Regions from separate parts of the Homo sapiens genome. Here all the other regions are linked to region 1. Evidence: fine-mapped expression QTL. A gene starts in region 1. Each other region holds a variant in brackets. All regions are shown on one strand. Distances are from middle to middle. Region 1 holds the start of AACS (acetoacetyl-CoA synthetase). Region 2 overlaps AACS (acetoacetyl-CoA synthetase). Region 3 overlaps AACS (acetoacetyl-CoA synthetase). Region 4 overlaps AACS (acetoacetyl-CoA synthetase).

Region 1 (5,147 bases):
TGCAGGCAACTCAACAGTGTGTCTGGAGATGAGACCTGGCCCATGGGCCACCAGTCTGAGAGCCCTGAAGGAGGGAAAGGAGCTCCGCAGCCATGCTCGGGCCCTCCCAGCACTTGCTCATGTTTACTCCACAACCCCAGGGACCCAGGGCAGAGCTGAGCACTGGGCTTGACCATCTCCTGTCACCTGCACACCCACTCAATGACTCAGGTCCTGTTATGCCCATTTTACAGATGAGGAAACAAGGCATGAAGAGATCCAATGACTTCCTCCTGATCACACAGCTGGTAAGTGGTAGAGCTAGTTCAAAACCCAGGTAGTCGGCCGAGCACGGTGGCTCACACCTGTAATCCCAGCACTTTGGGAGGCCGAGGCAGGTGGATCACCTGAGGTCAGGAGTTCTAGACCAGCCTGGCCTACATGGTGAAACCCCGTCTCTACTAAAAATACAAAAATTAGCCGGGCATAGTGGCAGGCACCTGTAATCCCAGCTACTCGGGAGGCTGAGGCAGGAGAACTGCGTGAACCCAGGAGGCAGAGGTTGCAATGAGCCGAGATTGCGCCGTCGCACTCCAGCCTGGGGGAGAAAAGCGAGGCTTAAAAAAAAAAAAAATCCAGATAGTCAGATTACAAATCCCTTCTCTTCAACACTTCCCACGGAGGAAGGTGGTTTCACCCATCTAATAGGGCTGCCCGATCTGAAATTATTTCATAACATCAGGGCTAGACAGGCACCAGACCAGCATTCTGTTATTGCTGGCAGAGGAAACAGATGGAATCAAGGCAAGGTGACACAGAGGAAGAACATAATCCCACATGGCAGCCTCCTGCTTCTTCCAGGAGTCTCCAGGCTGCCCTAATCCAACACATACTCATTTACCAACTGCTGTCCAGAAGCCCCTGGGGCAACAGACTACACCTGTCTCCAAGGGAGAGGAAGGGAAGGAGAGGAACAGCTCTGGGTTAGCCTAGGAAAATGACTCTGTGGAAGCTCCCCACTGCTGTGGAGGGCCTGGAAGCTGCCAGGCAGCCGTCTGCAATTTTGTGGTCAACAAGGAACCACTGAGAACTTCTGAGCCAAGGAGTGACAAAGTAAGACCTGTATGCTTCAAGATTACTCTGGCAAAGCAAGCAGGATGCAAATGGATGGAAAAGCAGGAAGCAGGAAAACCAACCACTGTTTGGTGAGGAGGAAAGGAGGCCCCAGAACCCCTGACAAGGGGCTGCAAAGGAGGAGATGTGAGCGACATGGGGCTGTGGCAGAAGACTTCTGGTGCCACAGGTGACTGGGGTGTCCATCCCTGTGAGCCTGAGCAAGAACAGTGACGCCACCAACAGAAACAAGGGAGTCCCTGCGCCAGCGGAGGGGGTGAGGAGGGGAGACCATGAGTTAAAAATCCCCTAGGAGGCCAGGCGCCGTGGCTCACACCTGTAATCCCAGCACTTTGGGAGGCCAAGGCGATCGGATCACCTGAGGTCAGGAGTTCGAGACCAGCCTGACCAACATGGAGAAACTCCGTCTCTACTAAAAATACAAAATTAGCCAGGCGTGGTGGTGTATGCCTGTAATCCCAGCTACTCGGGAGGCTGAGGCAGGAGAATCACTTGAACCCGGGAGGCGGAGGTTGCAGTGTGCCGAGATCTCGCCATTGCACTCCAGCCTGGGCAACGAGAGAGAAACTGTCTCAAAAAAAAAAAAAAAAAATCCCCTAGGAATACCTAGGGGAGGCAGGGTGGAGGGGTGGAGCTGGTAGTTGGGCAAGCCAGCTAGAGCTCAGGAAGAGCACCCGGAGCGGTTACCCCACGGAGAAGGAGCCTTTGCCCCACCCGCACCGAGAGAGGCAGTTTCTGAGGTTCAAGGTGATGGGTGGAAAGAGAGTCTTTTACTAGGTTCTGTTTGGGGGCTGGGAGTGTAGACACGTGGACAGGGCCTCCTGCCTGACCATCCTGCTAGGTGCTGGCCTCCAGCAGGGGCAGCTGGAGATGAGGGAGGTCAGGGGGACAGAGTGCACGGCACTGGGGACTGGCAAGGGACCCCCACAAACAGAGGAAGAGCTGCAAGTCAAAAAGGCCCTATGTCCGGGGGAAGCCCCCACAGGCCGGAGGTCAAGACTCCAGGGAGCACCTCACAGGTAGGAAAGCCTAGCAAGGGGTCACACGGTCAACAGGCAGCTGGCCCTCCCGAGGGGTGACACTCCCGGGGAGAGGGTGACCCCCACATGCAGAGGAGACGCTGCAGAGTCAGGAAGTGCCAGGAGGTGCTGTGGAGGGGTGATGTTCCCCAAGACTGGGGGGAACCCCGCAGTCAGAAGGCCTCCCCGCCATCAAGTGGCTCCTCCAGCCCCAGAAGCGTGAAACTAGCCATGGGGAGACCACCCAACCACCCTGCACGGCTCCCGCCCATCCCCCGCAGGCCCGGCCGCGCGCCCGACTCTCACCCAGCGCCAGGCCGCAGGCGGCGCCCACAGCCGCCCGGAAGCGGTCCATCTGCGTGTTCTTCTTACTGTCAGGCTCCCACATCACCTGGCACTCCAGGATCTCCTCCCGACCGGGGCGCTCCTCCTTGGACATGGCGGCGGCGGGCGGCCGGGGCTGCGACGAGGGCTGGGGACCAGGGGCCGGGGCTGAGGCGAGGGCCGGGGACCTGGGACCGGAGGAAGCGACGGTCAGGAGCGCCTGGCGGGCTGGGTCAGCGACGGCGGCGGCGGGGAACAAGGGACTGAACGGCCGCCGCCGCCTCCTGCGGGCCGCTTGGCCCAGGCCCCGCCCCGCAGGCCCCGCCTCGAATCCCCGCCCCCTTCCAGGCCCCGCCCTCCCGCCTGTAACCCTCCGCTGAGTGCAGCGCCGCTCAAAGGAGTGCTCGCAGCCGCCGGCTCCAGCGCCCGCGGCCGGGGGGCGTGGGGGTGAGGGGCGCTCACGAGCCTTGGCCCCAGCTCCCCGACCTCACCTGGAGCTGGAGGGCGTTAGGGCAGCCGGAGAAGCCAGGCGTCCGAGCCCGCTGTTTCCTACACGTGTACATCATTCATTCGCTATTTCTTCCTGCAGGTCTTTACTGAGAGCCTGCGGCATTCGGAGGACTTTGGGAGCTTTGCGGATACAGCAGCGAACAAAACAAAATTCTTGTTCTCTGTCAACAGGAGAGGAGGGGTACAGGTGTGAGGAAGACGGGAGACGATTAACAAATAAGTACATCGTGTACATACACAAGATAATGTCATAGTATAATACAATAATATACATAGTATGCCAATGGGTATCAAAATACACATTTGTGAAAGGAAAATAAATCTTGGGGCCCCACTACTAAGCTAAAGGGAAAAGAAAAGCTGGGAACTGCTTAGGGCTAACCTGCCTCCATTCTATTCAAAGTCACCCCTCTGCTGAGTTAAATGCACACCTGATTGCCTCCTTTGCAGAGGCTAATTGAAAACTCAAAAGAATGCAGCCATTTGTCCCTTATCTACCTATGACCTGGAAGGCCCCCTCCCCGCCTTAGCTTTTTTTTTTTTTTTGAGTCTCACTCAGTCGCCCAGGCTGGAGTGCAATGTCCCAATCTCAGCTCACTGTAACCTCTGCTTCCCAGGTTCAAGCGATTCTCCTGCCTCAGCCTCCTGAGTAGCTGGGATTACAGGCACACGCCATCATGCCCAGCTAATTTTTCGTGTTTTTTTTTTTGTTGTTGTTGTTGTTTGTTTTGTTTTTTTGAGACGAAGTTTCGCTCTTGTTACCCAGGCTGGAGTGCAATTGCGAGATCTCGGCACACGGCAACCTCCATCTCCCAGGTTAAAGCAATTCTCCTGCCTCAGCCTCTCGAGTACCTGGGATTACAGGCATGTGCCACCACGCCTGGCTAATTTTGTATTTTTAGTACAGACAGGGTTTTTCCATGTTGGTCAGGCTGGTCTCCAACTCCCGGCCTCAGGTGATCCGCCCGCCTCAGCCTCCCAAAGTGCTGGAATTACAGGCGTGAGCTACCGAGCCCGGCTCATTTTTGCATTTTTGTAGAGACGGGATTTCACCATGTTGGCCAGGCTGGTCTTGAAGTCCTGACCTCAGGTGATCCACCCGCCTCGGCCTCCCAAAGTGCTGGGATTACAAGAGTGAGCCCAGGTCTGAGAGCACCCCCTCCAGAGCCTCCCTGATCTCCCAAAATTTGGTGGAGATCTAAAGTTTATTTTGCTGTACAACTCTTTTCTTTGCAGTTTTACTTGCTTCCAACAAGGAAGGCAAGGTTTCCTGCTTCCATGACAATGGAAGGCAGGTAACTCCTTTATGGAGTTTGAGCTCGCTTCCAACAGGGAAGATGAGGTCTTTTTTCCTGCTTCTAGAATGGTAGAGAGCAGTCTACAGCCTAAGACCCATCCCTAGGTAAGTAACTGAATTGGGGTTTGTCTTGGCTAAAGTTAAGGTTAACAGCCAGCTGGTCTTAATGTCAGAGGCATTTGAACCAGAGCAACTCCATCTTGAGTGGGGGCTGGGTAAAATGAGGCTGAGATCTACTAGGCTCCATTCCCAGACAGTGAAGGCATTCTAAGTCACAGGATGAGACAGGAGGTCGGCACAAAATACAAGTCATAAACACCTTGCTGATAAAACACGCTGCAGTAAAAAAGCCGGCTAAATCCTACCAAAACCAAGGTGGTGATGAGAGTGACCTCTGCTTGACTTCACTACTACACTCCCATCAGCACCATGACAGTTTACAAATGCCATGGCAATGTCAGGAAGTTACTCTATATGGTCTAAAAAGGGGAGGCATGAATAGTCCACCCCTTGTTTAGCATATCATCAAGAAATAACCATGAGAATGGGCAACCAGCACCCCTCAGGGTGCTCTGTCTATGGAGTAGCCATCTTTTTATTCCTCTACTTTCCTAAGGAACTTGCATTTGCTTTAGTCTGTAGACTCGCCTTGAATTCTTTATTGCGTGAGATCCAAAAACCCTCTCTTGGGGTCTGGATCGGGACCGCTTTCCTCTAACATTAATTTATCCTTACCATTAGAGCGTGCTCAGTGATCATATAAGTTGTGCCATTTTTTGTTTGGCTTAAATGCTTTTTTGGTTGCTTGTTTGTCTCTGTTTTTGTTGTTGCTTTGGTCTTTTCCCATTGGGTTTGATCAACTATATCTGACTTGATCAAATCAA
Region 2 (5,147 bases), 70 kb before region 1:
ATAAATGCAAATTCCAGTTCCCTAAAATGTTCCAGATAAGACAGCACTGATTCACTGAAGGAAAACCTTAGACCCTCATCAGAAAAAGACAATAAGGGTCACTGATTCAAGAAGTACCTTCTTGGAGAGCATCAGTGTCCCCACAGAGAGCCGCCAAGAGTCACCAACCAAAAATAAGGGAAAAAGAAAGAGATGGATGGAAAGCCCCAAGCTGCAGGGCTCTTCCCATGCAGAACCAGAACACAAAGGAAACGTGTGGACACCACAAAAAGCAACCAACACCGCAGATGCGGGCAGGCGCCGGGAGGAGGAGGGACAGGGGTCCCGAGTGGGAGTCAGCGCAGATGTGGACAGGCGCCGGGAGGAGGAGGAACAGGGTCCCGAGTAGGAGTCAGTCTTCCAGGGATGATCAGGGATTGCACACCGTTGTCGTGCTGCAAGCGCTCTCCCCAGCCCCCACTCCTGGACAGGTTGTTTTGAAGATGTTGAAATAACTTTTAAGGCAAAGAGAATGATCTACGGGTTTCAAAGTAAACGGCATCAGATATTTCAACATTCTCCAGGAAGCAGACTCTCCTGGTAAATCCTGTCTCTAGTTACACCTCACAGAATCAGCCCTGCTCCCGGGCAACATCAAAGTCAGCTTCCCCTGGGAACCCAGTGAGTGTGTGCTCCCATCTTCTCCTTAACGAATAGCCATTCCATAGGCTTCAAATACAGCCTGCCACTGTCTAAATTGTTGTATACATTCACATACACACACACACTCACACACACACAGCAGCTTCTGTCAGCTTGCGGGGTATCCGTTTTGTAAGCAATGCAAATGAAAGCTGTGATCCAATTTGGGTGACCCTCCTCCTCCCCCACTTAGAATCAAAGCAGAGCGTACTGGGGCCAGGGGCTGGGGGATGACGACACAGCCTTAGGAAGACCTGCCTCTAAAAAGAGTCAAGTCTTGTCTGTACCAGCAGAACTTAAAACTAAAAGGCAACAGCAACGGCTCCCAGCAGCACTTTAAAAAGTTAAAATTGGCTGGGTAGAGTGGCTTACGCCTGTAATCCCAGCACTTTGGGAGGCTGAGGTGGGCGGATCACTTGAGGTCAGGAGTTTGAAACCAGCCTGGCCAACATGGCAAAACCCCATCTTTACTAAGAATACAAAAATTAGCCAGGCATGCTGGCATGTGACTGTAATCCCAGCTACCAGTTAACTCAGGAGGCTGAGGCAGGAGAACTGCTTGAACCTGGGAAGCGGAGGTTGCAGTGAGCTGAGATTGAGCCATTGCATTCCAGCCTGGGTGACAGACTCAGTCTCAAAAAAATAAAATAAAAAATAAAAAGTTAAAATTAATGTTCTCATTAAAAATTTTGAGAATACACTAAAACCAGGGGATAGCAGGGAGAAGCCAGTTGGACCTGCAGGGCTGGGCCTGCTAACCCTCTGAACATGGGTATTTAGCAGAAGTTGCTTTAAATGCAGTCTTAGGAAGGGTAGGAAAAAGGATGGCAGGGAGAGGATGGCGTTGCTAGGCAACGTGGACAAACGATATATAAAGCACCGGCAAGCTGCTCAGATGTAAGCGCCCCTCAATGTGTGGGCTCGTGGGGCGATGGCTGCGGTCTCCTCGCTGGCGGGAGATGGCCATACCGGGATGCCCTTGGTTTCCAGGATGAGGCTGGGCACGTGTCGCGCAGACAAGCCCATGCGGATGGCGTCACGGATCCTCTTAACCAAGTCAGGCTGGAAGGCGTGCCCGGAGGCCATCTTCAGGAAGAGGATCACCCTCTCCTCCCTGTACTTGTTATACTGGGGGACACACAGGCTGTCCTCCACCTCCTCGAAGGATTCCACTGTGGAGACAGGAGAGGGTGCACATTCACGCAGGGGGCCCCTCAGTGTGGGGTCGGGCCTCACAGCAACCTGGCAGAGCAGGAGGGGCAGGCTGGGTCCCCCAAGCCTTCCAGCGGTGCCTGTGTTCTCCCAGTCCACCCAGGAGAAGGGCCTTGGAGGGACATTTGCTGAGGAGGCCGTTTCACAAGCGGAAGAAAACCCATCACTGGGGAGGCAGAGAGAGCTTCAGGTTTGGCAGGATGGGTGATGTTCTACCAGGAAGCCAGGTGTGGGCCTTACTTAATGAGAAATTAATTCAAGATAAAAAAGAGGGCCGGGCATGGTGGCTCACGCCTATAATCCCAGCACTCTGGGAGGCTGAGGTGAGAGGATCACTTAAGTCCAGGAGATTGAGACCAGCCTGGACAACATAGGGAGACTTTGTCTCTACGAAAAATCAAAACCTAAGTTAGGCATGGTGACACACACCTGGAGACACAGCTACTCGGGAAGCTGAGGCAGGAGGATCGCCTGAGCCCAGGAGGTCGAGGCTACAGTGAGTTATGATGGCGCCACTGCCCCCCAGCCTGGCCAACAGAGTGAGACCCTGTCGGCCTCCCAAAAAAGGAGGCAGGTGGCCGGGCACAGTGGCTCACACCTGTAATTCCAGCACTTTGGGAGGCCGAAGTGGGTTGATTACTTGAGCTCAGGAGTTTGAGACCAGCCTGGCCAACATGGCAAAACCTCATCTCTACAAAAAATACAAAAATTAGCTGGGCATGGTGGTGCACGCCTGTAGACCCAGCTACTCAGGAGGCTGAGGTGAGAGGATTGCTTGAGCCCAGGAGGCGGAGGTTGCAGTGAGCTGAGATCACACTATTGCACTCCAGCCTGTGAAGAGAGTAAGACCCTGTCTCAAAAAAAAATTTTTTTAAAAAAGAAAGCAGGTGCCTGTGGTGGGGACTCCACTGGAGTGAGGAAAAAAGGCTGGAATCAGACATCGGGATTTCTCTACCCTGGCCACACAAACGACCTTGACATAAGTTTAGGACTCTGACCTAAGCACTAGCATAAGAGGCCATCTGACCAACTCTGCGGCCTGGGCTGGGTCTGGGTCCCTGGGCTGGGAAGTTTGAAGGCCCACAGGTGACTCCACTGTACAGTTGTGAGATCCACAGGCCTACACTCTCTGTGCTTGGTGTCCTGCATGATGCTGTGTGACCTTCAGCAATCCTGAACCCTCTCTGTGCTTCTGGTTTCTTCAACCATAAAGAGTAGACACAAGTTGGCCGGGCGTGGTGGCTCATGCCTGTAATCCCAGCACTTTGGGAGGCCGAGGCAGGC[G/A]GATCACTTGAGGTCAGGAGTTCGAGACCAGCCTGGCCAACACGGTGAAACCCCATCTCTACTAAAAATACAAAAACTAGCTGGGCATGGTGGTGCATGTCTATCATCCCAGCTACTGAGGAGGCAGAGGTTGCAGTGAGCCAAGATCGCGCTCCAGCCTGGGTGACACAGCGAGACTCTGTCTCCAAAAAAAAAAAAAAGAGTAGATAGACACAAGTAACCAGCCCAGCAGAGCTCACCGGGAGGATGAGCTATAATGAGGAAGAGGATGGGCAAAGGGACCTTAAAGACCCCATTTGAGGTTTTATGAGGATGGCAGTGTGGGCAAGGTATGTTCTGGAAAGGAGGTCAGGCTCACAAATGTCCACTGTCACACCAGAGAACAAGGGGCCAGAGTTGTGCCAAAGGTGGGGCTCCTGGGGCTCCCGCCAGGACCCTCCTCCTTCCTGGAGACTGGAGAACGCTCAGGGAGGGGAAGCACGTACCAATGTTATAGATTTCCGAGCTGCCGAACCGCACCCCGTTGGGGTTGAGGGTGCCGTCACTGGAAAGAGAGAAGAGGTCAGGGCCACACCGCAGCTCTGGAGTGAAGCAAGTCCCAGGGGTCCCACGGGAGGGCAGTCACCCCCCACTTTCCCATGGCATCCCCCAGGACTAGTCACGGACACTCCGCTCCCCAGCTCCTTGCCCTACCACCCGGCTCTTTCTCCCTCTCAGGTTAAAGCTTTCCATCGAGGGAGGCAGGAACATCTGTCACCTCACTGCCTTCCCACCTGCACACGTGTCCCCCATTGCAGGTGTGGACACTGCTGTGCCTTTGCTGTGGAACCCCCATCCTGACACTCCCTACCCGAGAACCCCATCACAGGGCAGGGAGACTTGGATCACGCCCAGACCCATCCCTCGGGAAGGAAGCTGGCACAGGGATGCGCCACCCCAGGAATGACACAGGAAGGGTCCAAGATGAGGGACAGTCAGCCATGTTGCAGACTGAGCAGACAATGCTTCCTCAGAGGGGGTCTTCAGGCCCAGGGATGGTGTGTGCACAGGCACAGGGGTGGGGAAACATGGCGCACCAGCCGGTGGGGGCTGGGGGGTCCCAGACACCAGCAGAGGTGTGGGTGGTGTGGACACCCTGGTGCTGGAGTGGAGTGAGGTGCCCAGGAAGGGGGTCACTGACTTTTATAGAAAGCACCTCCTCTCCCACCCCCATGCCTCTGGAAGGTGGGGCTCCAGGAAAGAGAAGCCGACTCTGCAGCCCTTACCTCCGGCCAAGCATGACGATGCCCCCGGTCTTGGGGTTGATTCTGCAGTAGTCGCCATGAGCCCAGATACCTGCAAAGACAGCAGAGGTGCCCGGTCATCCCGAGGAGAAGGGGCCATGACAGGCTGCCTGGACAGACGCTGGGTGTAGGTCCGCAGACATCACTGGGGCCCAGAGGCAGGTCTGGCATGGGGCTGGGGGCCAGAGGGAGCCAGACAGTTCCTGCCCCAAGGAACATGCCCTCTAGCGGGGCTGCTGCCCGGGCAGCTCTGACACCGCCGGCGAGGAGGAACGCAGCTCCTCAGGCACCAGCAAGGACCCGGGAATTCACAGAGGGCAGGACCAAGCTCGGCCAGGCCACTGGGGGTCAACAGGAGTGTCTGGAGACAACCCTGAGTGTAGCACAGGAAAGAATAAGCCATGTCTTGGGAAGCAAGAGTGGCCAGGGGCAGTGGAGGGCACAGGGTGTGCAGAGGTTGGGGCCAGATCTTGGAATGGAATACACGTGCTCGTGACCAGGAAGGAGGCTACTGCACCAGTCCGAGTCATGTAGGCTTGAACCAAAACATTAGCCACATGGACAGAGAGCCGATTAGCAGGTAAAACCCAGGGGATGAGGAGACGGGGAAGAGGAAAGAGCCAGGGATGACAGCAACACAGTGTCAGCAGGCCACGTGAGTGGCCTCATGTGCAGCTGTTCAGAGAA
Region 3 (5,147 bases), 78 kb before region 1:
GGGAGGGCACCTGTCACCCTGCTGGGCAGCACATCTCCCCGCCTCCTACACAGCTGAGTGCAGTCAGGTGACAAGGTTGTGGCCAAGGGGGTGAGGGTGAATGTTAGGTCACCTCCTCCATGACTGTGGTGAGCCAACATCTTCCAAGTGGACAAGACCTGCACACCAGGGGAGGCAGCAACCATTTGGAAGCCCAGGTCCTTGGGTGACCTTGCAAAACAAAGCTACCTACCCGCCCTGGCCTACCCATTCACCTCAGAGCGGTGACAGGAGAGAAGACACATTCCGGATTGAGCCAGATTTGGGGGCACCTGTTAGAGCAGCCCAGCTTGAACCCAGTGACAGATTATCCCCCATAAAGCTGCATGTGACATTCCCTCTGAAGGCTTGAGCCCATCACAGGATAGGTTGTGGCTGGGTCCTCAAAGGGAGTGTTGTTCCCCATGAGCCCTTCTCCTGGGCATTTGCAGACTCGAGGGAAGGGGCTCTTCTGTTCACCTACAGCCATGGTGACAGGGGTGGTACGACATCAGGAGGATGCCTTTTCTAAGGCGTGTGGGTTTCAGGCCTTCTGTTTGGGAAACAGATGAGTGAGCCAACCTGGGCCCTATCCTAGAGGGCTCAGATGCCCCTGTGGGGACAGGTCAGTGGCTGACTGCAGCTGGAGTTGATCGTTCAGCTCCAGTTGAGGAGAATCCTCCCGGGCGAGAAGGTGGGGCTGGGCAGCCCAAGCATGAGAAGGAGGCCTCCAGCCTGGAGAAGGTTCCTGGAGGTGGGCAGGAAGGGCCTGGAGGAGGACCAGCTGCTCAGAGGCCTGCTGGCCGTGGGAGATAGCAGAATCCTGGCAGCCCTAGCCAGGCTGTGTGGCAGATCCTGATGCCTTCAGAAGCTCCTGATGGGCCAGGCCTGGTGGGGAGCTGGAAGAAGACGAGAAGGCACGGTGCAGCCCACGGCCATCTCAGAGATGAAAAGGCAGCTGGCCGGCAGGTGGTGGGTTCTTTAGAGTGATGCTCGGGCCAAGGAACGTCAAAAGCAGGCTCAGCACCACGTGCACTCAACTGGCTGTTGTTCCAGACCATCTGTCCCTCATTAATGAAGTTGTCCGGCAGGGCTTATTAATAAGGATGCGTGGGCTTATTCAGCCTGGGCCGTCTTGCTGGAACTAAAGGGCACGCTGATTAAGCTGTAATGACTCCTCAGGCACTGTCAACATGAAGGGAATCTCCAGGCACCCAGTGAGAGGAGAGGACCTTGCAGGCCCCAGGCCCGACCTGAACCCTAAGGCCCACGGGCCACTCACAGGGGAGGACAATCCCAGCCCAAGTGTCATCAACCAGGGCTCCCTGCTGCTCCCAACAACCACCATCCACTTCTCCCTCGGCCAGCAGGACCCAGACTGTGTTTGCAAAGTGAGGTCAGCAGAGTAGCAGCCCCCCAAAGATATCCACATCCTAATCCTTGGAACCTGTGAATGCGTTAGGTTACATGGTGCTGTGGGTTGGATGTGGCTTGTCTATATGCCAAAACTCATGTTGACATTGACACCCAATGTAGCAGTGTTGGGAGGGGTCAGATCCCTCCTGAATACATTAATCCCCTCTGTAGGGGGTGAGTTCTCACCGTCACTTGTGCCTCGTGAGAACAGATTAGTTCCCAAGGGCGTGGTTGTTGAATGGTCTGGTTTCCTCTCTCACTGCGTGATCTCTGCATGCACCTGCTCCCCCTCCATGTTCTGCCCTGAGTGGAAGCAGCATGAGGCCCTCACCAGATGCAGCTGCCCAGTCTTGGACTTTTCAGCCACCAGAATCATGAACCAAATGAACCCCTTAATAAATTATTAACTTATAAATCACCCAGCTTCAGGTATTCTGTTACAGCAAAACAAAATGGACTACGACGTCGTGAGGAGGAGTGAGGGCTGCAGATGGAATTAAGGTTGTTAATCAGCACACATCAAAATAGGGAGATTATCCTTATTCAAGTGGGCCTGCTGCAATCACAGGGGGTTCTTACATGTGGACACGGTGGGTGGGAGTGTCAGCGTCAGAGAGCTACAGTGGAAGGAAGGTGTGACCGGCCATTGCTGAAGACAACAGGGCACCAGACAAGAAACACAGTGGCCTCTAGAAGCGGGAGAAGGCAAGGAAATGGATTCTCCCCTGCAGATTCCTGAAGGAACACAGCCCTGCTGTCACCCTGATTTCAGCCCAGTGAGACCCACAGCAGACTTCTGACCTCCAGGACTGTAATAAACTGGGGCTGTGTTAAGCCACTGCCTTTGTGGAAATGTTACAGCAGCTGTTGGAAACTCACAAAAAAGGGGAACAGGTCCTCTTTGAAATACTCAGACCCCCGGATGCCCTTGCAGCGAAGGCGGCTGCGTGTCCCCAGGCTGGCTGGTGAGGCCCAGCAGATGCTGCCGGCTTTCCAGAAAAGCCATCATTTTGCAGATAAAAAGGGACACACTCCAGAGATGCAGCTTTTTGCCTTTACCCAGCCCCCTTCTCACTCCCACCTTCTTCCTGCCTACAGCACGGATGAAAGACTAGAGGTGGGGCAGCCAGGCAGGGCCAAGATGATGACTGCCACATCCTGAGGACAGCAGAGTGCAGCAGACAGGAGCCAGGACTGCTGCACTGTGGAGTTGCTGCCCGGCCCCGGGAGAATGGACTGCCTCCAACTTCCTGTGACGTGAGAGCCATAAACGCTGCTGGGCCAAGCCTGGATCCCGTGGCATGTAGCCACACACAACCCAAGTGACATGCAGCTCTTGCGATGACAAGAAAGGAGCCAGAAACCTGGCTGGCGCTGGGTGTTGGGGGATCTCAGGGTGGAGGGGGCCCAGGGTGCTGGCTTCACACTGAGCAGCACTCCTCGTTGGTCAC[A/G]AGGGAATGTGGGTAAGTACCAGGGCCCTGGGAAGTGCCCCCAACAATTCGAACCACACAACTCCAGGGCACAGCTGTTGGCGGGCGCACAAGCACCACCAGCCTCACACACGCAGATGCGGTCCCCCCTCCAGAGAAAACACACCAGCACACTGCACACACAGCATGGGTGCATGTGCACACATGTATACATTTATTGCATAAAATTCATCATAGCACTTTCCCCCATATTTTTATAATCCAAAAGGAAAATGATTCAAGAAAGGATTTCATTGTGCTCAGTTTCAAAAAATATAAAAATGGACATCAGATTAGAGATACAAGTTCATACGCTGAACTGAATTGTACATACCAACTGCCTGGCTATGGAAACCCGTGACTTGACTTAGGGGTGCTGATGACATGATCTCGACAAGAACCCCCTAGCAACTCTCAGGTGGAGGCAGCACAGGGATGCGGTTCCTGGTGAGGAGGGTCCTCACTCGGTGACCACACTGCCTGGGCTCACAGCTGGAGGGCTCACCCATGAGGGACACGGGTGGACACCCACTGCTTCACATGCCTAATTCACATTAGAAACATGTAAAGCCATTCAGTCTGTGCAATAAAGAGATCCTGTATGAAATCCACTCATTCCTTGGAGGGAAGCTGGCCCGGAGGCACGCTCTGGTTGACGGGTGACGCACAGTCCTCCAGGGCCTGCATTGCATCCATGACACAGACACACGTGAACACCCAGCCCGCCGGTCCTAGCAGCCAGCTGTGAAAGCTGTGTCAAGTCACGGGGGTTCCTTTCTAACAGCTAAAGCTCAAAGGCATACTGGACCCTGAGGGAAAACAGGAGAGCCTGAGATGGGAAGGGAAGAAAGGGATTTGCACCTTCACAGAGCAAAATGGGACAACGGGACGGGGAGGTTGAAGACAAGACCTTGGCTCAGGAGTGTGTCTGTCTTCAGCACCAGCCAGCCCCACCGTTCCCGCTGCACTGTGTGTGCAAAGACACACACTCTCACCACAGTGCCACACCTGCGGCCCAGACACTCCCTCCTGGTCTCTGAAGGCCAGAATCCCACTCGTGTGGAAGATCCAGGTACCCACCAGATTTAACAAAACAGAGAAACGATCCCTCCCCAAGCCTACAGAACACTTGGTGCGAGCATCCTTTTACAACAGCTGTAGGTTTCTGTATAATTTCTTGAGCACACAAAAGTTACAGTGCACACGGGTGCGGCTGAGTGACACGCCAGCCAGTCTGACTCAGAAGCCCTGCAGCTCAGGGATGTCCCGGTACAGATCCAGGGTCTCGGGGTTCGAGAAAGCACCTCCTTGCTCCACGGCTTTTCCAGCGATGATCTGTTTGACGGCAACTTCCACTTTCTTGCCGTTGAGCGTATACTGCGAGGGAAAGGTAGAAAAACAGGAACATTTAAACCTGAAGGGGGGAAAATCCGCAGCCCTGGATATATCCAGGCCCCAAAGGCCCAGCTCCACCTGGAGTGCCAAGAGTGAATGGGTCTCGGCTCTAAGATGCCCCTCTTCCCACCAGGTCTGCAAACGTGCACCGAAGTACGGTGAACTGACCACTGTCTCTCTGTTTGGGGGATAAAACCTGTTCTTCTGAAAGGCACTTTCAAGGACTGGTGCTGAAACTCAACTCTAACACTCTCCACACCCCACCCCCGCCCCCTGGCACGGCTGTTGAGAAACTGAGGCTATTTCAAAGTTGCCCAGAGGTCACCATGAGCATGTTCATTTTTCTTTTTTTCTTTTTTTTTCTTTTTTTTTTTTTTGAGACAGAGTCGCACTCTGTCACCCAGGCTGGAGTGCAGTGGTGCAATCTCCGCTTACTGCAAGCTCCCCCTCCCAGGTTCACACCATTCTCCTACCTCAGCCTCCTGAGTAGCTGGGACCATAGGCACCTGCCACCACGCCCAGCTAATTTTTTGTATTTTTAGTAGAGATGGGGTTTCACCAGGATGGTCTCATGTTAGCCAGGATGGTCTTGATCTCCTGACCTCATGATCCACCCATCTTGGCCTCCCAAAGTGCTAGGATCACAGGCGTGAGCCACCGCGCCCAGCCGAGCATGTTCATTTTTCTAACGCTGCACACTCTACTGGGCCCCGTTGGGACCCACGACACGTGTCACATCCAAGCTGGCCTCGAGAGGGCCCTCCAGACACCCCACTGACCCCGGCAGTGCATATTCCAGATGGGAATATAAAAAAGAGTATCTCTCAGGGTTCAGGGTCAGCCTGACCA
Region 4 (5,147 bases), 43 kb before region 1:
CTGCTTCTAGGTAGAGGGAACGTCTATAAAAGCTAAGTGAGCTAGAATAAGGGAACTTGTATATTTCCTTTTCAAATGCCACTGTCTTATCAAGCAAAGGTTTCTCCACTTGGAGAATTCTCTTCTTCTGAGTTTGGGGGAAAAAGTGGTGATCAGAAGGTTTGACCAAGATACAGTGGATTTTTCTCCTCCCTATAGGCTGAGCCAACTGATAGGGAAATGGGGAAATGAGCTATGGGGAGAGCTGAAGAGCTGGCCCAGAGGAGAGCCTAGAGCAGCGTGAGGGTGGGAGCCACGGCGTCGCAAGCATCCTGACTCCCACAGACCGGCCCAGGAGAAGTCTGAGTGCAAGGTAAGGATTCAACCGAGTCAGGAAGCCCAGGGGCAGAAGAGGATCAGAGGAAGTAAGATGTGATAGCAGTTATTAGAAAAGCACTACATTCAGCTGGGCGTGACGGCTCAGGCCTGTAATCCCAGCACTTTGGGAGGCCAAGGAAGGTGGATCACGAGGTCAGGAGTTGGAGACCAGCCTGGCCAACATAGTGAAACCCCGTCTCTACTAAACACACACACACACACACACACACACACACACACACACACACACACACACACACACACACAAACTTAGCCGGCCGTGGTCGCGGGCGCCTATAATCCCAGCTACTCAGGAGGCTGAGGCACAAGAATCGCTTGAACCCGGGAGGCAGAGGTTGCAGTGAGCCAACATTGAGCCACTGCACTCCAGCCCAGGTGACAGTGCCGGGACTCCACCTCAAAAAAAAAAAAGCAAAGCACCACATTGACCCAGGCATTTCATTTCTGAAGAGTGGCCTAGTGAAATCACAGAAATGAAATACACTAACGTTGTATCCCCCCGATAGATGCACGGAGAAGAACACCACATCATTTCCAGCGTGTTCCCACCAAAGCTGCATCACCTGGACCTAACCACGAGGAGACACCAGACATACCCAAACAGAGCCATTCTGCCAAACCAGGAGCCTGGGCTCTTTGAAAATGTCAGTGTCACGGAAGACGAAGAAGCCCAAGGAGCTGCTCCAGACATGCAGGAGACCTGACGACTGACGTGCCACCGCCTGAGCTGCTAGGACGCTACTGGGGAACTGGCGACCTGACTGTGGACCATAGATGAGGGGGCGGCACTGCACCAACGCCAACCTTCCTGAATTTGATGAGCGCGCTACACACTCTTCTGTAAGAGAACGCTCCTGTTCTTGGGAGATACGTGCTGAAATATTAAAGAGTGAAAGATCATTGTGGCTCCAACGTACTCTCAACTGGTTCAACAAAAAGCAAAATAACAACATGTGTATATACGCTGAGAGAGAAAGAAGGCGAAAGAGGCTTTTAGGACGTGTTAAAAATGGATGTTGACATCAGGCACAGTGGCTCATGCCTGTAATTCCAGCACTCAGGAGGCCAAGGCGAGAGGATCACTTGAGCCCAAGAGTTCATGACCAGCCTGGGGAACATAGCAAGACCCCATCTCTACAAAAACAAAAAAGTAGCACGTGCCTGTAGTCCAAGGTACTTGGAAGACTGAGGTGGGAGGATCGCTTGGGCCCAGGAGGTAGAGGTTGCAGTGAGCCATGATCACGCCACTGCACTCCAGCCTGGACAACAAAGTGAGAAACTATCTCAAAACAAAACAAAACAAAAGGACGTTGAAAATGTTAAAGACAGAATGTCAACAATGGAAGAATTCAGCTGAAGGGTACCATGGAGCTTACTATTCTTGCAGCTTTTCTAGAGGTTCTCTAGGTATTTTATTTTTTTCAAAAATAAAAGGTTTGGTTGAGCATGGGTGGCTCACATCTGTAATCCCAGCACTTTGGGAGGCCAAGGCAGGTGGAATATATGAGCCTAGGGGTTTGAGTCCAGCTTGGGTAACATGCCAAAACCCGGTCTTAAAAAAAAAAAAAAAAAGCCACAAAAATACAAAACAAACAAAAAAACGAGTAGGGCATAGCGGCACACGCCTATAATCCCAGCTACATGGGAGACTGAGAGGGGAGGA[C/T]TGCTTAAGCCCAGGAGGCAGAGGTTGCAGTGAGCCAAGATTACACCACTGCACTCCAGTCTGGGCGACAGATCAAGACTCCATCTCAAAAAAAAATAAAATAAAATAAAATAACAGGTTAAAAGTCACTAACCTATACATATACATTCTATTGCATAGTAGTAACATATTATTTCAGGTGCTTTAATAAAGTTAGACTTTCGGTGAAATAAGAAAAATTAAAAGCATGTGTCATGGGCTGAACTGTGTACCCCCAAAATTCGTATGTTGAAGCCCAATACCTAGTATCTCAGAATGTGACTAAATGGGCCTTTAAAAGGTGACAGAGTTTAAATGAGGCTGTCAGAGCAGGCCCAGATCCGATCTGACTGGGGTCCTCAGGAGAAGAAGCTTGGACCCATACAGAGACACCAGCGGTGTCACGTGAAAGATCACACGAGGACAGAGCAAGAAGGCGGCCGTCCACAAGCCAAGGAGAGAGGCCTCAGACAAGAGCAACTGTGCGGCACCTTGGTGTTCCACACAGCCTGTGGTGTTTCGTTATGGCAGCCCTAACAGACTCGCAGCACGGGCAGGCTCTTTCTCAGTTAATTAGACTCTAATAATAACCTAATAACCTAGTAACCTAGCCTTCTAATAACCTAACCAGTGGCTTTCAAATATTTTACCACAACCCACGGTCAGACATAAGTTTTACAACGCCCCCAGCACGTGCACACATTCCGCTCCATGTAATGACAGCTTCACAGAACACCACCCATACCTCTTATGAGCCTATTCTGTGCTAATATTTTATTTTATTTTTATTTTTTGAGACAGAGTCTGGCTCTGTTGCCAGGTGGAGTGCAGTGGCATGATCTCAGCTCACTGCAACCTCCGCCCCCTGGGTTCAGGCAATTGTCCCACTTCAGCCTCCCGAGTAGCTCAGACTACAGGCATGTGCCACCACGTCCAGTTAATTTTTGTATTTTTTAGTAAAAATGGGGTTTTGCTATATTGGCCAGGCTGGTCTCAAACTCCTGGGCTCAAAGCAATCTGCCCACCTCAGGTTCCCAAAGTGCTGGGGTTATAGGTGTGGGCCATTGCGTCTGGCACTGCGCTAATATTATCTATTCTTGTCTATTCTGATTCGTTCTTTTTAAAATACTGGCAGGGCCCACCTATTGAGTTCACAATCCCCCAGGTGGTCCAGACCTGCAGGGTGAAAGTAGCTGGTTCAGCCAGCGCACCCCCCACCCCCAAGGCACACCGCGCTGTACAGTGACCTCCAAGCCTATCGCCATGGTGTTAGGTGCCATCCCAGCCTTTGAAGTGGCAGCACTCCACTGCCCTGGGCCCAGTGCCGGATCTCCGTGCAGCACCCCACTTGGAGAGAAGCTGCACGTTGGACTCTCCGGGGATGGGGTGCAGTTTGACAACTCCAACACTGCCATCATCAGCTGGGAGGCCCTGTTGAAGCAAACAGACAACAGGAGGCCCTGCAGAGCCTTCCCCAGAGACCTACCCCAGCGGAATGCACCATGCACTTGGGTGCGCCCGTGGTGCCCGATGAGAACATGATGAACAGTGGGTGGCTGAAGGGCAGCTGCTCGAACTCCAGCTGCGGGGCCTGCTCACTGGTGCCGGTGGCAAGAAAGTCATCCAGAAACACACTGTGGGCCGAAACGCAGGGAAACACGCCATGAACGTCCCAGAATGCTGGACCGGACCCACTGATTCCACCCGTGCACTTCCCTCTGTTTCTACCCCCAGAAAAGCCAGGATTCCAGGGGGACGGTGGCCAGATTTGGAAACTTCCTGGGACCAGGGGAGGCAGTTAGATCTCAGAGATTCAAGCTAATTGAAGGAAAACTCATCGAACGAGTGAAGGTTTCAAGTTGCTTAATCAGCACTGCTGACAGGGCCAAGGGCTGTCTTTTAGAGAATATTTTAAGTGTTTTCATAACCACCACGGAGAAGGATCACTTACAATGAACAAGCCATGTGTGTACCAACACGGCTGAAGGAGGCTTTGGAAATGGCCTTGAAGTCTTCTGAGCCCATGTCCTTTGTTTGCTATTGATCACCTGATTAGCAAACGCTTTGTTTCCAATGATTGCCCAAAAGGAAGCACTCACCAAGTGGGTCTGAAGTAAGATGCTTCCCCCGTGGGGAGAAGGGAGAGGAGGAGATGCTAGATTAATGAGCCCTTCCTACAGATGTGGGGTCAATTTCCTAAACTACAGCTCAATGACAGAGAACCGCTCAGCAAATATCATGTGTTGTCACTAACTTACTAGATCCTGAGGTTTACAATAGCAAGATACAAATATCTGTGCAAGAACAAATAAAATTAATCCCAGCTATTGACTGTCACCCAGGAAGTGTGCCTAGGCTTACCCCCAAAGCTGACAGGCAGCATTGTTGTAGGTGGCCAAGAACCACCAAAGGGGCGACACAAACAGGAGATTTGTTTTCTGCACTAGAAACAGCCGCAGAAGCCACAAGCCATCTTGGGAAAAGGTGGTTTTCTATTTTGAATTCAGCAGCAACATCCATCTCAAAACATTGGCCCTATACTCAACTGACAAATGGACTTTCTCTCAGGGAAGGAGGTGGGAATCAGTTAAACGCAGCCTGCAGCCATTTGCTAGGGATAATTACTCTGAAATACAAATGCCATACAGACTAAAATGAAGAATTTTGCTGTCTTGCATGAGAAGGCATCCTTAAATATAAAGGTTTCTCCTGGGGAAGACATGGTGGTTTAAAAAGGGCATCCAAAATAATTCAACTCTAAGCAAGAAACAAACAAAGCCGTCTGCTCCAGCATGTCAGGAAAACTATTCACTGTGGAACTTTACAGCCAATGAAAACCCCATCCCACCTCTACCTCCTATAAGAATCCCATTATAAAGTGCCAGATCTAATCAGATACTTCACACAGAGAAAAGCCTTTTCTGTCAAATGGCCCATAAATCACAGTACATAATGATTACCTTTGTTAAAGCTCTTCTAAGAATGAAAAGCCCACAGGGTGGCTCCCCCGGCCCCGTCAATTCTCCACAGATGGGCACGTACCCGTTTCTGCTTTATCTGTGGCATCCACAATCAAAGGATGGACTGC

What was found. PIP is the estimated chance that this variant, and not a neighbour inherited with it, causes the effect.
Region 2: its variant is the best candidate, but not a certain one, in a credible set for the expression of AACS in hypothalamus (GTEx, PIP 0.76).
Region 3: its variant is the best candidate, but not a certain one, in a credible set for the expression of AACS in skeletal muscle (GTEx, PIP 0.58).
Region 4: its variant is the best candidate, but not a certain one, in a credible set for the expression of AACS in whole blood (TOPMed, PIP 0.66).

Annotation. Positions count from the first base shown.
Region 1 is chr12:125,063,009-125,068,155 of GRCh38, reverse strand. AACS (acetoacetyl-CoA synthetase) reads right to left here and starts at 2,721. Exons shown (of 18, transcript NM_023928.5): 1 at 2,439-2,721. The coding sequence starts at 2,571. It overlaps LOC105370052 (a long non-coding RNA gene), which reads left to right. Exons shown (of 4, transcript XR_001749365.2): 3 at 3,046-3,153. RefSeq lists a silencer at 2,461-3,080.
Region 2 is chr12:125,133,368-125,138,514 of GRCh38, reverse strand. AACS (acetoacetyl-CoA synthetase) reads right to left here. Exons shown (of 18, transcript NM_023928.5): 15 at 4,443-4,512; 16 at 3,663-3,721; 17 at 1,651-1,853. Among named protein-coding and RNA genes, the nearest start is that of TMEM132B, 50 kb to the left of the region's middle. RefSeq lists an enhancer at 4,623-5,147. The variant G/A (reference allele first, on the strand shown) is at 3,178.
Region 3 is chr12:125,141,225-125,146,371 of GRCh38, reverse strand. It overlaps AACS (acetoacetyl-CoA synthetase), which reads right to left. Exons shown (of 18, transcript NM_023928.5): 18 at 3,056-4,280. The coding sequence ends at 4,143. Among named protein-coding and RNA genes, the nearest start is that of TMEM132B, 43 kb to the left of the region's middle. RefSeq lists an enhancer at 2,691-3,265. The variant A/G (reference allele first, on the strand shown) is at 2,886.
Region 4 is chr12:125,105,667-125,110,813 of GRCh38, reverse strand. It overlaps AACS (acetoacetyl-CoA synthetase), which reads right to left. Exons shown (of 18, transcript NM_023928.5): 8 at 3,546-3,693. Among named protein-coding and RNA genes, the nearest start is that of AACS, 43 kb to the right of the region's middle. RefSeq lists an enhancer at 4,982-5,147. The variant C/T (reference allele first, on the strand shown) is at 2,042.